2 separate regions of the Homo sapiens genome follow, and region 2 is linked to region 1. The links come from fine-mapping of genetic effects on gene expression. Tissue or cell type: whole blood. Region 1 holds a variant in brackets; the other region holds the start of a gene. All regions are shown on one strand. Distances are from middle to middle.

Region 1 (8,104 bases):
CTCTTTACTGATGGAAATGGCAGAAGAATAAGTAATTTCCATGGATCTAGCTCTCTCTTGAAAGGCCATTGTTTGGGCTGCCTGAATGTTCTGAGCTATGAATTGTGGGGCTCTACCCTCTGAGAGATGTCTAGTATTATCATTCCAGAGCCTAGGGGTGTATCTATGGGAGGAGGTGTGGGATAGACAATTATGTCATCTAAGTTTGTCTCACCATTGCAGATGTAAAGTGGAATAGATTAGTCCTCTAGTCCCAATTCTGGAAGATCCCAGGGACACACTGCTTGTTAAACAGACCAGAACTACTGAGCCCAGTGTCAACCTTTCCAATTCCAGAGACATGTGAGGATGAAAGCACAGATGAGGAACTCCTCGCTCCCACCCCACATGTCCTTGAGACCATTACCAAGCCCTTGCCCTTCCATGCTAACGATGGAGGAGTGGCGCACCCCAAGCCAGTCCTTGCTGGGAGACTTTGCATGTTCTATCATAGGCAGACTAGGTGCTTTGTAGGCCATTGCCCAGTTCTCATTAGCTCAACCAATGAGAAACTGTAAGACTGTCCAGACCACTGCCCAGAGGAAACTGACTTGTCTCAGGCCCATACCATCACTTTGCCACCATTTCTTGGCACAGTGGGAAGAAGGCATTTTCTATTTCCATACAAATGAAGATGGCAGACTACTGCTTTCAGATTGAAGTGATGACAGATTCAGAGATATCAGGTAGCTTTGTGTTCAGCCATCCCTGCTACCCATCTGACCTCTGGCCAGGCTGATGTAGCCTTGTGTCCAGCCATCTCTTCTACCCATCTGACCTCAGACCAGGCTGATATGAGTGGACACATTGGTGACCAATGACTTGCAAGACTATTCATAAAGATATACTCGGGGCAGGGAATGCCCAGACTGGGGCTATTCATTCACTGGGGAAAACGAGATTTTCCAGAATCTAGAAGCAGGGAGCAGTGAGGAGCTTTTAGGATGCCACATATTGACTCTATCTGTTTCTCTTGGGTAAGGATATAGCTCCGAGAAGCTGATTTTGGCTAAGGGCCAAAACAACACAATAGATTGTGAATGAAAAGATAATTATAGATCGTGTAGGCCCTTTTAAAATAGTGATGGAAACACCAATTATTAAAAGGGCTCTAGTATAAAACAAAATTAAGATGAATTTGGCAATACTCTGCCGTGTGATGTCCCTGGAAGTGCACATATCTCTTCAGGGATTTTGGAGTCATCAATTATCCATCCTCACCCAGCCCCCCACTCAAGTTGTTTTTTTTTTTAATTCTCTTTGTTATTTTATTCCATTAATCTCATTTTGAAGTTACTATTTTAGTTGTCATTTGCTTAATTATTTTTTCTTTTGTTTTATTTTATTTATTTTTAATCATACTTTAAGTTCTAGGGTACATGTGCACAATGTGCAGGTTTGTTACGTATGTATATGTGTGCCATGTTGGTGTGCTGCACCCATTAACTCGTCATTTACATTAGCTATATCTCCTAATCCTTTCCCTCCCCTCTCCCCCCATCCCACAACAGGCTCCAGTGTGTGATGTTCCCCTTCCTGTGTCCAAGTGTTCTCATTGTTCAATTCCCACCTATGAGTGAGAACATGCGGTGTTTGGTTTTTTGTCCTTGCGATAGTTTGCTGAGAATGATGGTTTCCAGCTTCATCCATGTACCTACAAAGGACATGAACTCATCATTTTTTATGGCTGCATAGTATTGCATGATGTATATGTGCCACATTTTCTTAATCCAGTCTATCATCGTTGGACATCTGGGTTGGTTCCAAGTCTTTGCTATTGTGAGTAGTGCCACAATAAGCATATGTGTGCATGTGTCCTTATAACAGCATGATTTATATTCCTTTGGCTATATACCCAGTAATGGGATGGCTGGGTCAAATGATATTTCTAGTTCTAGATCCCTGAGGAATCGCCACAGTCTTCCACAATGGTTGAACTAGTTTACAGTCCCACCAACAATGTAAAAGTGTTCCTATTTCGCCACATCCTCTCCAGCACCTGTTGTTTCCTGACTTTTTAATGATTGCCATTCTAACTGGTGTGAGATGATATCTCATTGTGGTTTTGATTTGCATTTCTTGGACGGCCAGTGATGATGAGCATTTTTTCATGTGTCTGTTGGCTGCAGAAATGTCTTCTTTTGAGAAGTGTCTGTTCATATCCTTTGCCCACTTTTTGATGGGGTTTTTTTTTTCTTGTAAATTTGTTTGAGTTCTTTGTAGATTCTGGATATTGGCCCATTGTCAGATGAGTAGGTTGCAAAAATTTTCTCCCATTCTGTAGGTTGCCTGTTCACTCTGATGGTAGTTTCTTTTGCTGGGCAAAAGCTCTTTAGTTTAATTAGATTTCATTTGTCAATTTTGACTTTTGTTGCCATTGCTTTTGGTATTTTAGACATGAAGTCCTTGCCCATGCCTCTGTCCTGAATGGTATTGCCTAGGTTTTCTTCTAGGGTTTTTATGGTTGTAGGTCTAACATTTAAGTCTTTAATCCATCTTGAATTAATTTTTGTATGAGGTGTAAGGAAGGGATCCAGTTTCAGCTTTCTACATATGGCTAGCCAGTTTTCCCAGCACCATTTATTAAATAGGGAATCCTTTCCCCATTGCTTGTTTTTGTCAGATTTGTCAAAGATCAGATAGTTGTAGATCTGCGGCATTATTTCTGAGGCCTCTGTTCTGTTCCATTGGTCTATATCTCTGTTTTGGTACCAGTACCACACTGTTTTGGTTACTGTAGCCTTGTAGTATAGTTTGAAGTCAGGTAGCGTGACGCCTCCAGCTTTGTTCTTTTGGCTTAGGATTGCCTTGGCGATGCCAGCTCTTTTTTGGTTCCATATGAACTTTAAAGTAGTTTTTTCCAATTCTGTGAAAAGTCATTGGTAGCTTGATGGGGATGGCATTGAATCTATAAATTACCTTGGGCAGTATGGCCATTTTCACGACATTGATTCTTCCTATCCATGAGCATGGAATGTTCTTCCATTTGTTTGTGTCCTCTTTTATTTCATTGAGCAGTGGTTTGTAGTTCTCCTTGAAGAGGTCCTTCACATCCCTTGTAAGTTGGATTCCTAGGTATTTTATTCTCTTCGAAGCAATTGTGAATGGGAGTTCACTCATGATTTGGCTGTTTGTTATTGGTGTATAAGAATGCTTGTGATTTTTGCACATTGATTTTGTATCCTGAGACTTTGCTGAAGTTGCTTATCAGCTTGAGGAGATTTTGGGCTGAGACGATGGGGTTTTCTAGGTATACAATCATGTCATCTGCAAACAGGGACAATTTGACTTCCTCTTTTCC[G/T]AATTGAATACCCTTTATTTCTTTCTCCTGCCTGACTGCCCTGGCCAGAACTTCCAACACTATGTTGAATAGGAGTGGTGAGAGAGGGCATCCCTGTCTTGTGCCAGTTTTCAAAAGGAATGCTTCCAGTTTTTGCCCATTCAGTATGATATTGGCTGTGGGTTTGTCATAAATAGCTTAATTATGATTAGATACATCCCATCTATACCTAATTTATTGAGAGTTTTTAGCATGAAGGGCTGTTGAATTTTGTCAAAGGCCTTTTCTGCATCTATTGACCTAATCAAGTTTATATCCCTGTTTTGAAAACCCTTCACTTCCAATTTTGCTTCTACCTTCTACCAGGCTACGGGTTGAGAGCAAACATCAGGATGAGACGCCTTGCTGGGAATTTGGGCAAAGATTTTCAAACTGTATTTAGCCGAGTGCTAGGTTCTAAAACAATTCCTGTGGGATGCTACAGGATGGGTTAAGGGGTGGCTGGGCAGAAGGCGCTTTAGGTTCCATCTCCACTGCAACCTTTAAATGAGCTCGTTTGTGCATGCCTAGAACGTGGCCTTGTAACCAAATGGTGAGGGTGTGGCCCCCAGACTCAGGAAACCATTTATATCACTTTTCCTCTGCCAGCTCCTAGGACAAGTATCGGCATACAGGAAGTACTGGGGTCTGAGGAATGCAATCAGCCAAATCCAGAATGTGGGAAACTCTACAAGACAAATGACCTGTTTTCTTCATCAGAGAAGAAACAATAAGATAGAAAGAAGTAGGGGAAACTTATATATAAAGAGACTTGAGACATACTAATCACTTGTACTATGTGAAACCTGGTTAGATCCTGCTTCAAAAAAAATCAACTAAAAAATATCTATGAGGTAATTAATGAAATCTAGTAGATGATATCAAGGAATAACAATTAATTTTTTAGGTGTGATAATGGTAATGTGTAATAGGTTTAAGTGTCCTTTTCTTTTAGAGATATAAATGGAACATTATACAGATGAACTGATATGATATGGATTAGCTTCAAAATAACATAGGTTGAGAGAAGGGAGTAAGTAGAAGTGTAGATGAAACGAGATTAGACTAGAGTTGGTTTTGGACATATGCTGAACCTGAGTGGTAATGTGGAAGCATCTTTATACTAATCTCCCTACTTTTGTTTGAACTATTTCCTAATAACAACTGTAAAACATTATGAACACCATGAGAGGCACAACTGAGTTTCTTCGTGTTGTTTTTTTTTCTTTCTCCTTTTGCCAATACTTATAATTTATGTCATCTTTTTTGTAGCCATGTAAACCAATTTAAGTTTTTCAAGAGGTAAGTGAGGTTAACAAATAGGTATTTACTTACCTACCTATATACATATCTGTTTCAAATACTATGTTTTCTGAGGTCATTTATTGACGTAATTTGGAATTCTGTGATTCCTGTTTGCCTTTTTACTTATCCAGCCTTCCATATTCTGGATATTTTGCCGTTCAGTCTCTTTATCACTGCTGAACAAATAGGTAATAAGTGGATAGATAGGTAGATAGTTTACAGAGAAACCTTATCTACTTATAATGTATTTATAATCCATATATATTAATCTCTATATATGTATTATATATAAAAACCCATATATCCATATAGAGACCTGTCTACATATGTGGATATGGGACATTCTATGTATCATCTCTCTATACACATGAGCTATATGAAAAGGAATCTTTTTGTCTATAGATAGAAACCAGTAAATACAGTTTGACAAGGCTGCGTTTGCTGCTTCCATCATTGATTTGCTTTGGCAGTTATGGTTTTTACTTTCCTGTATTTTTATTCCTGCATTAATAGTTACAATGTCTTCTTCTAACTTACTAAGAATATAAAACAACTTTCTTAATTTTTCTTTTTTCATTCAGTAAATCCATTTCAGGTGGATGATTTTATCCCAAACTTGTCATTATTCTTCTCCTCTTCTTTTGCAGAGGTATTAGAGTTTGCTCTTTTCTTTTTAATCATTTTGAGCTTCAGTGGTCTTTGTCTTGAAAAATTAGATCCAAAGCCCTTGCTCAGCATCCATTTGAGTACCAGGAGAGGTTTCAGGTCCAGAGTCAGAGGGCAGACTGGAAGAACAGGCTGAAGCCTGACAATATCTGGAGCTCAACAGTAAGATAGTGGCATTCCACTTCCCACTCCCGCCTTCTAAGTGTGGATTAATGCAGACAACCCTAGCCATTGTCAGGACTTAGCAATATAACCCAAGGTGTATGAGGAAGCAGTCAGCAGAGTTAGCAGTACTGCAAGATGGACCACAGCAGATTTCTGATGCTTTTACTGGATAACACAATGTTAAAGAAGATTGGGTCATATAAACTTATTTTTAAAACAAATGTACAATCTGAGAAATAAAAACAAGCAAATAAAACCATCTGAGCTGTTCAACTGAATAGAGATAATGAGATTCTTATGCTAAGGCAAAAGAAAGGGCAACTCCAGAAACTATTTTTGCCTCAGATAAAGCATGAGTTTTAAGGCTGCTTTGTGGGCTGTAAATATATTAAAATAAACATACCAAAGTGACAGACTTCTGGGGAGTTGAGCTTCTCCAACATTAGCTTTATGACAAGTTCATCTGGAATGCTTTGACCGCTGATCAACATTGATTGCAACTAAGGACAAGCATAGATATTGTACATTACTGTATAATATATCTATGATACAGAGCTTTTTTTGTAATCATAGTTACTTTGAAATTTAGGTTTGTTTACCATAACTCCTGATTCGGTTTCAGCAGCAATCTGTTCTTCTAAAATTGGCAAAGCTAAAACATGAATTCAAAATATTAATACAGACTGATATTAAGATCACCAAAATAAGAAACACATTCTAGTGTCTTGTAACTGGTAACAAAGATTAACATTTGTGCATCACTTTATAATTTACAATGCAAATGTATGCATATTACTTCACTTAAGCCTAACCAAAGCAGAAGCAGCAGAATGTCTTCCATAGAGAACTTGTCTCTGCCACTTACTAAGCTTAAGAATCTTGGAGAAGCGAACATGGTGACTCATGTCTGCAATCCCAGTACTTTGGGAGTTCAAGGCAGGAGGATTGCTTGAGCCCAGAAGTTTGAGACCAGCCTAGGCAACATAGGGAGACTACATTCCTACAAAAAGTTAAAAAATTAGCAGGGCATAGTTATGGTGCATGCCTATAGTCCCTGCTACTCAGGAAGCTGACGTGGGGTGATCACTTGAGCCCAGGAGGTCAAGTTTGCAGAGAGCCGTGATCATGTCACTGCACTCCAGCCTGGATGACAAAGTGAGGGCGTGTCTCAAAATAAAAATAAAAAATAAAAAAATAAAGAATCCTGGGGGAGTTAACTCTGTAAACGCCTCTGCACCTTGGATGCATATGTACTGTGTAGTGTACAATAGAACGTAAGGATGAAATCAGGTGGTGTATATGACAGTGATTTCTAAATCATTTAGTTACAAAAGTATGCACTGGTATTAATTAATCCAGATTTTCATAACCATACAATTACATCCAAAGCCTGCTAGTTTTGCACATGGTGTAAAAGGAAATGAATCAAGAAATGTTAAAATGGGTAAACACTGATTAGAAAGAGGGGTCTTGAGGCTGAAATTCCAATGATTTATTTCCTTTAAAAGAGGAAATGTATCATTCCTTGATAGAGGACATCCTGGGATAGGAATGACAGGGGCATGACCCAGGGGAGGACCCAGGAGAGTTGTTATATCATTAGTTATTAATAATCTATGGGATGTTTGGTATTCTTTAAGATTTCCTAGAAGTAAACTTTTTGAACAAAGAAAGAAGAAACTTTTAGAGTTGTGTGTGTGTGTGAGTGTGTGTGTGTTATGTATTACAAATTGTTCTCCAAAAAAATTGTACCAGATTGCAACTTTACTAACAGCATGTGGAATGCCCATTTCATAACATCCTTACCTACAGTGATTGTAGTAATTGTAAAGATTCACTGCCAATTTGATAGGCAAATATGGACCAGTGTTATGTTGATTAACATTTCTTAGAATGATGTTAAACTCTCTTTTCTTATATTGTTTATTTTTATTTCTACTTTTATGAATTGCCTATTCATTCTTTTTCTTATTTTTCTATTAGGGCATAAATAGTTTTATTAATTAAAAGAATATTTATATATAAAGATATCAACCCATTCTCTTATATATTGCAAAGAATGCAAGAAAATTTATAAATAAAAAATAAAAGTTATCATTGAAGACAATTAAGTTCTGAAAAATGTTCCTAAGAAAAGCTGTGAGAGTTCCATCTCATTTGAGCTTTCATAAAAAGACACCCAAACACACATATCCCAAACAGTTCTAAATTACGAATAGAGAATTGGAGGTAGTAGAATAGAGTTGATGACATTTCATAAATGCTATGAACAAAACTAGGACAAACAGAAGGGCAAAACATTATTGGATTGATAATGCTGTTATAAAAATAATATTGGGCCGGGTGTTGTGGCTCACACCTGTAATCTAGTACTTTGGGAGGCCAAGGTGGGAAGACTGTTTGAGCCCAGGAGTTTGAAACCAGCCTGGGCAACAAAGCAAGACCATGTCTCTACAAAAAAAAAAAATAATAATTAATTAAATTAAATATAAATAAAAACCCAAGCAGATAATATTCACTGGGTTGATAGGTGGACAAATGTGTGATAAAGCAAATATAGCAAAACGTTAATCACAGACTCTAGATGGTGAGTATATGGGCATTCACTGT
Region 2 (8,104 bases), 190 kb before region 1:
TGAGGCAGGCAGATCACGAGGTCAGGAGTTTGAGACCAGCCTGACCAACATGGTGAAACCCCGTCTCTACTAAAAATACAAAAAATTAGCTGGGCGTGGTGGCGTGTGCCTGTAATCCCAGCTACTCAGGAGGCTGAGGCAGGAGAATCACTTGAACTCGGGAGGCGGAGGTTGCGGTGAGCCGAGATCGCGCCACTGCACTCTAGCCTGGGTGACAGAGCGAGAATCCATCTCAAAAAAAAAAAAAAAAAAAAAAAAAAAGCTAAAATATAACCTATTACAGTTCAACAAATATTTCTCAAGTATCCACTTTGTTCGAAGTACCTGAATTCAAGCTCTTCAACCTATCTGTAGCTAAAGTCTTTAGGGAGCTTTTAAAAGCACCAAGGCTCCAGACAACTAAATCAGAAGCTCTGGGGTGGAGGTCTAGGCACTGGTAGTTTTAGAAGCTCCCTAAGTGATTCCAATTTGCAGGCTGAGAACCACAGCACCAGATACTGCTGGATCACAGGAGAAGACTTAAGCCCCAGTCCCTATACTTAAGATTACAATTAAGTTGAGGGATATACAAGTGGTAACAACAATCTGATCCAAAGCAGAGTGGGTTTTAAGCACCTGAAAGGGCTCAAAGGAGGAAGGGATTTCTCACTAGGACTGCAGTGTCCAATACGGTAGCCACTAGCCACATGTGGTTATTCAAATTTAAATGAATTAAAATAAAATTTAAAATTCAGTTTCTCAGTCACGCTAGCCACAGTTCAAGTGCTCAAAAACCACATGTGGTTACTGGCCACCATATTGGACATCAGAGATGTAGGAACATTTCCATCATCACAGAAGGGTCCCATTGGTCAGCGCTGGGCTAGAGGGACCAAAAATGAGAAGGTATTTAAAGCTAGATAGCTGAGTTACAAAGTGATCTACACAGACTTGGGCAAAAGCATGGTTATGGTCAAGATGAAGAATGTTCAAGAATCAGAAAGCAGGGTACATTGGGCTAGATCTTGATAAGTGGACATTAAAGGATTCATTCAACAACTACAAATGAGAGGGGTTCTTGAACCAGGCTACCTGGGTTCAATCCCAGCTCTGTCACTAACGGGTGACTCTGGCAAGTTATTTAAGCTCCCTAGAACTTGGTTGCTTCATCTGTAAACTATGCACTTTAGCAACCCTCTCTTACATATGAGTAAATATGATTTTAATCATACAATGTATAATGAGGATATTACCCACCTTGCAGGATTGTGGAGAAAATTAACTGCAATAACATGTATAAAGGCTTTATTACAATGCCCATCACACAGAAGTTGCACAGTAAATGGAAGCTATTATTATCATCACTACTCCCAATTCTGCAACACACTGCAATCAGCTTTGAAAACATCATTACCTGTGTGGCTCCTCTGGTGGATTGCTAAAAAGTGATTGTACTTAAAGACCTTGCCACAGTCTTTACAGCGGGCCTCAGGGCCTCCAGGGCGCTTTCTCCTTCCACAGATCCTCTTGGCTGAACCATGGTCCTCTTGATCCCCAACAAGTTTGTAATCTTTAAGTTTGACGGATCTCCAAATCCTCCGCTTGCTGTATCGACTCTGGCTTGCCTGGCCATCCTCGGTCTTGGGATCATAGTTCTCATCTTTTTCAACTGGCATTTCCTCCTCTCTACTTGGCTCACAAGTAGGCTCCGATTCTTCCTTTTCTTTTGCTGCAATTTGCTCATTCAGTACACCACTGTCTCCTTTAACCACAAAGTTTTGTCTATTCTGAACTGAATTGTTCACTCTTAACTGTATTTCTTCCTCTGCAGCCAGTTCTGATTTCTCCTCCTGCAATGTATTGACTTTTTTTGGTCTTCCCCGTTTCCGCTTTGGAGGATCGTTTTTCTTATTAGAGATAACAACCACTGGGGCACCAGCAGTGTTCAAAGTTGTTGGCTTTGGGGAGCTATGATTATTTTGGAAGTCTGTGTAAGCCTTTACCAGGTCATAGACTTTTAAGAACTGAGCAGTAGCCAGGATTTGTTCTGTACTTTTCTCACTGGCATGGAGATAACCTGTGTAGATAAATTCCAGCAGGATACCAAAGGTGTCTGCAACCATGCCTTCCAGCATATAAATGGATTGGCCGATTTCCCCCTCTTCTGCAAACATCATTGAGAAGTATTCACTACTGGCAGCAAGTAAGGCTTTGTGGGCCCGGAAATGTACATTCTCCACGATTAAAGTAATGTCACAGAGGAAGCCTTTCTTCCTCTGATCCTCAAAACTGGCCAGCACAGTGTCACTGTGAGCGTCTGAGTGTACAACAAGCTGCCCAGAAGGCTCTGGCGATGTTTCTGCCATTTTCTTCAGAAGCCACTAAGGGTTAAATCTGAAATAAGAAAACAAGGTTTAAAAAGGAGAAAGCACTGTCTAAAAGGTTAATGCCAGCCCACATGAACTTCCTATTCACTTCACATCATTAACTGAATTTTACCATTACCATTTTTGTCTGTCTACAAACTTAGCTCTGGGCCCGGGCGCAGTGGCCTCACGCCTGTAATCCCAGCACTTTGGGAGGCCGAGGCCGACGGATCACTTGAGACCAGCCTGGGCAACATGGAGAGAATTCATCTATACAAAAAATACAAAAATTAGCCTGGCGTGGTGGCGCCCGCCTGTGGTCCCAGCTACTCAGGAGGCTGCGGCAGGAGCATCACCTGAGCCTGGGAGTTCGAGGTTGCCGTGAGCCGTGATCGTGCCACTGCACTCCAGCCTGGGCGACAGAACGAGACCACCACCTCAAAAAACAAAAACAAAACAACTTAGCTCGCGGTTTTTTTTTTTTGAGACGGAGTCTCGCTCTATCGCCCAGGCTGGAGTGCAGTGGCGCAATCTCGGCTCACTGCAACCTCCGCCTCCCAGGTTCAAGCAATTCTCTCCCTCAGCCTCCTGCCGCACATTAACTAGCTGAGTGACTCTCCAGTATTCATGGAACGGTTCAGGGTCTACCTTCTATAAAATGAAGGAATGGGATTAACCATCTCCAAAATCCTCCGCAAGCACGAACTTTCTATGGTTGCACAACTATTTCAGGGAGAACGAAGCTGCCTCCATCTCCCAGATTATTAGCCATTTCGTATGTGGGAACCAATGTGAAGAGTGAAGAAATGTGCACGTGCAAAGTGAATGTGAGGTAGCTGCAATAAAATACTAATAACTTAAGCTGCGTGGGGCCGCCAGACACACTAGGGGCGGCGCGGAGCCCCCCGCAGCCCCGGGTGGTCCCAGCAGGGAGAGGTGGCGCGGAAAGACCCCCACCTCCCCGCCCAGGCCCCGCGGGCCCGACTGGGGAGCACACGGCGGGGGAGGGGTCGGCGCGGCAGACCTACCGCTCAGGGGCGCCCGGTGGGGTCCGGGTCGCTGCCAACTCACCCGGCGGCCTGGCGGGAGACCCACGCCGGGGCCCGCTGGCCCTCCGCTCCGCCCCGCCCGCCTCTGGGGCTTCTGCGCCGCACCGGTTTCTGCTCCTGCGCCGCCGCCGCAGCCACAGCCACAGCCAACCCGGAAGCGCGGCGCCAAGAGCCGCTTGCGCGCGGACGCCGAACCACGTGGCCCGCAGAGGCGCCCCTGGAGGTGGGGGCCACGAGAGCGGCGGGGAGGGGAAGGGAGGTGAGGGGCGGGGCGGGGCGAGATGGCGGGGCGGGGCGGGGCGGGGCAAGGCGGGGCAAGGCAGGGCAAGGCGGGGCGCGAAGGCAGTTCAAGGGTTGGGGCGTGGCAGGGGAGGGGAGGGGCAAGGCGGGGCGAGAATGCAGGCCTGGGGTCGGGGGAGCCGCGGCGGGGCGGGGCAGGGCGGGGCGAGATGGCAGGCCCGGGGCTTTGGGGCCGGGGCCGGGGCCGGGGCCGGGGCAGGGCGGGGAGGGGCGCGGCTTCGGAGGAGGGACAGTGGCCGGGGCGGGGCGCGGCCAGGGGCGGGGCGGTGTCGGCGCCCGAGGTCCTGCGTGTGGCACTGCCGGGGAGCCCAGGCAGGAGCGACTTTTGCGGTGAATTGGGGGCAATGGACAGGAGAGGCGTTGTGACCCCTCCCTTTGGGAAGTTTTATATCGTATTAAACTGTTAGCTCAACGCCAATACCTTAATTTTATCTCTTCTCCGACACCGAATCTGGTGTTGTTCTTGAATGTATAAAGGCATGAAATCCCCCTTACCGTCATCATCATTGTCATCATCATCACCATCGTCATTATCTAGTGCTAATATAATAACTATTACTTACCTCCTAAATGTTTTTCACATCTGCCTCCTTTTCCTCCCCACTCCTGATGCCTTAGTCTAAGGGAATGAAGAGAGCACTGCAGTCAGAGAAACCTGGGTTCTGAGAGATCTTGGGCAAATTACTTACCCTCACAACTTCTTTACCTTACCTGTAAAATGGAGATGTTAACACTAGTGCCACTTTGGTAGGGTTGCTATTGCATAAACAAAATTAAGTATGTAATGGGCTTAGGAAATGCCTGGTTTAATTCGTCTGCTGTGATTAAAATGATCATTATTATTCAAACTTTCATCATCTTTGTTCAATAGACTGTTTCTAACTGGTCTCAGCTGCAGCGTTGTTCTCTTTAATTCGCAGAAGTACAGAGGATTTCTCCAAGTACATATGAGATCCAGAGACTAGAGTCACTCCTTGGCTTAGAATCCATGTGGCTCCCACATGCCCTCTGGATAAAGTCCAGGCTTCTTAATGTGGTCTACAAGCCCCATCCAGATCTACTCCCCACCTGCTTCCATCCATTTATTTCAGCATTTTCTCTCTCTTAGCCAATACCTAATTACTTATTTTTCTGCCCATTTCCAGATTCCCAACATGCCATCTATAGCCTCCCTGATCTTGAACCGGAGGTGTAATTAGCAACCTGGCTCTTACATTTTTACTAGATTTTATTAAAACTAGCTCAAGCCACACATGCTCCTTCTCTGAGGTTTCCCTTTCATATTGAATTGTCTCTAAGTCCTCTGGATTTGTGGGGGTACAAGTGGGATGGGGAGCGCTCCCTGACTTCTGCATACCAGCAGGAAGTTAGCTACCTCATTGTTTCTTGCTGCTACGAGGGTTGCAGTCAAATCACTGTCCCTCCAGAGGTCCTCAACGGCATAAGAAGACTCAGTGCCAAGGTAAGCCAGGTACTTCCATTTCCTCATTCAATCATTGCTCACTGGAGCATAATCCTGCGAGGAAAGACTGAGTCTGGAGGATCTTCCAGCATCAGCCACCCACAACACAGACTAGCCCTTTCTTCAAGGCAATTTTGTTTTGGATCCATACTGACTTTTTCAAAACTTTTGTTCTTGTTAAGGCCAGCCGGTCTACCCCTAACAGGTCTTCTTAAATTTAAATCTTGCAGAACAGGATTTGGGGTGTCATACATTCATCTAACAGATATTTATCGAGTGTCTACTAAGAGCCAGACATTGGCGTCAGGTGTTGGGGATACAGCAACTAACAAGGCCTTTGCTCTCATGAAGCTTACATTCTACTAAGGGGAGACAGGACAAATATACAAGTAAACTAATGAATAATAGTTTCAGAAAGTGTTAAATTTTATAAAGAATGATGATGGAGACTGACAGGGAAGTGAAATCAGGATAGGGTGACATTTGAGCTGAGATCTGAATGACATGGAGACAGCTGTGGGAAGATCTGGAATAAAAATGTTCTAGGCAAGGGAAAAGCAAGCATAAAGGCTCAGACTGGGAAGGAGCATCTGATGAACGGCAAGGACTGTGTGGCTGGAGCACAGTGAGTGAGGGGCAGCAGATGGAGTGGAGAGTTGCCAGATTTCACAAATAAAGACACAGGACACCCATTTAAAAAAATAAATGCTGCCTCAGCCTCCCATGCTGGGATTACAGGCATGAGCCACCTATACCCAGCCAACAAAGAATTTTTTTTCATATAAATTTAGTGTAGCTTAGAGCGTACAATGTTTATAACGTCTACAGTAGTGTATAGCCATGTCTTAGGCCTTCACATTCACTCACCACTCACTCACTGACTCACCCAGAGCAACTCCTATTCCTGTAAGCTCCATTCATGGTAAGTGCCCTACACAGGTGTACTTTTTTTTTCTTTTATACTGTTTTGTTTTGAGACAAAATCCCACCCTGTTGCCTAGGCTGGAGTGCAGTGACATGATCTCAGCTCACTGTGACTTCTACCTCCTGGTCTCAGGTGATCCTCCCCACTTAGCCTTCTGAGTAGTTGGGACTGCAGACATATGCTACCACACTCCACTATTTTTTTTTTTCCGTATTTTTTGTAGTGATGAGGTTTTGCCATGTGGCCCAGGCTGGTCTTGAACTCCTGGGCTCAAGTGCTCTGCCCACCTAGGCCTTCCAAAGTGCTAGGATAACAGGCATGAGCCATCAGTATACTGTATTTTAAGTGTCTTTCTTATGTTTTGATATGTTTAGATACAGAAATACCACTGTGCTACAGCTGCTTACAGTATTCAGTACAATAACATTCTGTACAGGTTGGTAGCACAGGAGCAATAGGTTGTACCATAGAGCCTAGGTGTGTAGTAGACTATACCATCTAGGTTTGTGTAAGTTCACTCTGTGATGTTTGCACAGTGACGAAGTCACCTAGTGATGCATTTCTCAGAACATATCCCTGTCATTAAGCAATGCATGACTGTACCTATAAAAGAAAACCAGTTAAAATGACAGCTGGTTTCTCAACAGCAATAGTAGAAGCCAGAGGTTAGTGGCATGATACTTTCAAAATTCACCTAAAATCTTTTTTATAGACTACAATTATCATGGAAAAGGACAAAATCAAGACAATTTTGGTCAAACAAAAAATAAAAGTATTAACCTCCAACAAACCCATACCATAGGAAGGAAAATAACACCAAGAGGAAAGTCTGAGGTATAAGAGGGAGTTGTAAGCCAAAAAAAAAAAAAAAAAGAGAAAAAAGTAAGTATGAAGGAAATCTAAACAAACATTGATTATGCAAAATAATGTCTAATTCGGAGAGTAAACAAATAGAGTAGATCTAAAATATTGAATGAAAATACCATTTAAGATGGGAAGCTGGTTATCAGTATTCCAGTGTTTTAAGGGTACAGCTATTGATTACCTTGAGGCTTTACATATACATGGTGAAAGAGTAAGGGACAGCCACTTAATTGGTACAAATAGAGTGCATACTTCAAACACTGTAGAGGAGATAATGGCATTTCAAAGTTATTGGTCAATGCCAGGTCGGGTGCAGTGGCTCATGCCTGTAATCCCAGCACTTTGGGAGGCCAAGGTGGGCGGATCACTTGAGGCCAGGAGTTCAAGACCAGCATGGCCAACATGGCAAAACCCCGTCTCTACTAAAAATACAAAAATTAGCCGGGCGTGGTGGCACAGCTACTTAGGAAGATGAGGCACGAGAATCTCTTGAACCCGGGAGGCGGAGGTTGCAGTCAGTTGAGATCATGCCACTGCACTCCAGGCTGGGCGACAGAGCAAGGCTCTGTCTCCAAAAATAAAAAATAAAAAAAAATAATAAAAAAAAAGAGAGAGAGAAAGAGAAGGATGGAGAGAATGTTAAAGGCAAGAAGAGCCAGATCATGTAAAGTCTTTTATGCCAAGAAAAAGGAGTTTCGATTTTAACTGAAATAGGAGGCCACTGGAAGATTATTCAAAAGGACTGTTGAATCTGACTTATGTATTTAAAAATTACTCCAGCTGCTAGATGAAGAGTAGATCCTGGAGGGACATGAGTGGAGGCATGGATATGAGGGTGACAGCAGTGTAAAATGTAAGAAGAGCCCATATTCAAGGTAGATTTGGGGGATAGGTCTTTCTGAGAGGACTTGCTGAGAATAGATGTGCGGAGTGACGGAAACAATGCAATCAAGATTGACTCCTGGGTTTGGGGCTAAATCAACAGAGTGTACGGTGTTACCATTAACTGATCTGGAAGAAGAGAAGTTGGGTTGGATAACAAGTATGGGGTGGACATATTAAATTTGAAATGTTAACTAGATAACCAAGTACAGTAGGCAGTCATAGGTAACAATCTGGAGTTCAGAGCTGAGAACAGAATTGAGATATTAATAATGGA

The links. PIP is the estimated chance that this variant, and not a neighbour inherited with it, causes the effect.
Region 2: it holds the start of ZBTB24, and the variant in region 1 is fine-mapped to the expression of ZBTB24 in whole blood (TOPMed, PIP above 0.99).

The regions. Positions count from the first base shown.
Region 1 is chr6:109,666,022-109,674,125 of GRCh38, forward strand. It overlaps AK9 (adenylate kinase 9), which reads right to left. Exons shown (of 41, transcript NM_001145128.3): 4 at 6,094-6,146; 5 at 5,898-5,994. Among named protein-coding and RNA genes, the nearest start is that of AK9, 21 kb to the right of the region's middle. The variant G/T (reference allele first, on the strand shown) is at 3,341.
Region 2 is chr6:109,479,682-109,487,785 of GRCh38, forward strand. It overlaps ZBTB24 (zinc finger and BTB domain containing 24), which reads right to left and starts at 3,538. Exons shown (of 7, transcript NM_014797.3): 1 at 3,417-3,538; 2 at 1,394-2,373. The coding sequence starts at 2,345. It overlaps ZBTB24-DT (ZBTB24 divergent transcript), which reads left to right and starts at 3,963. Exons shown (of 4, transcript NR_187591.1): 1 at 3,963-5,156. RefSeq lists an enhancer at 1,029-1,530 and silencers at 3,229-3,518, 3,599-4,038.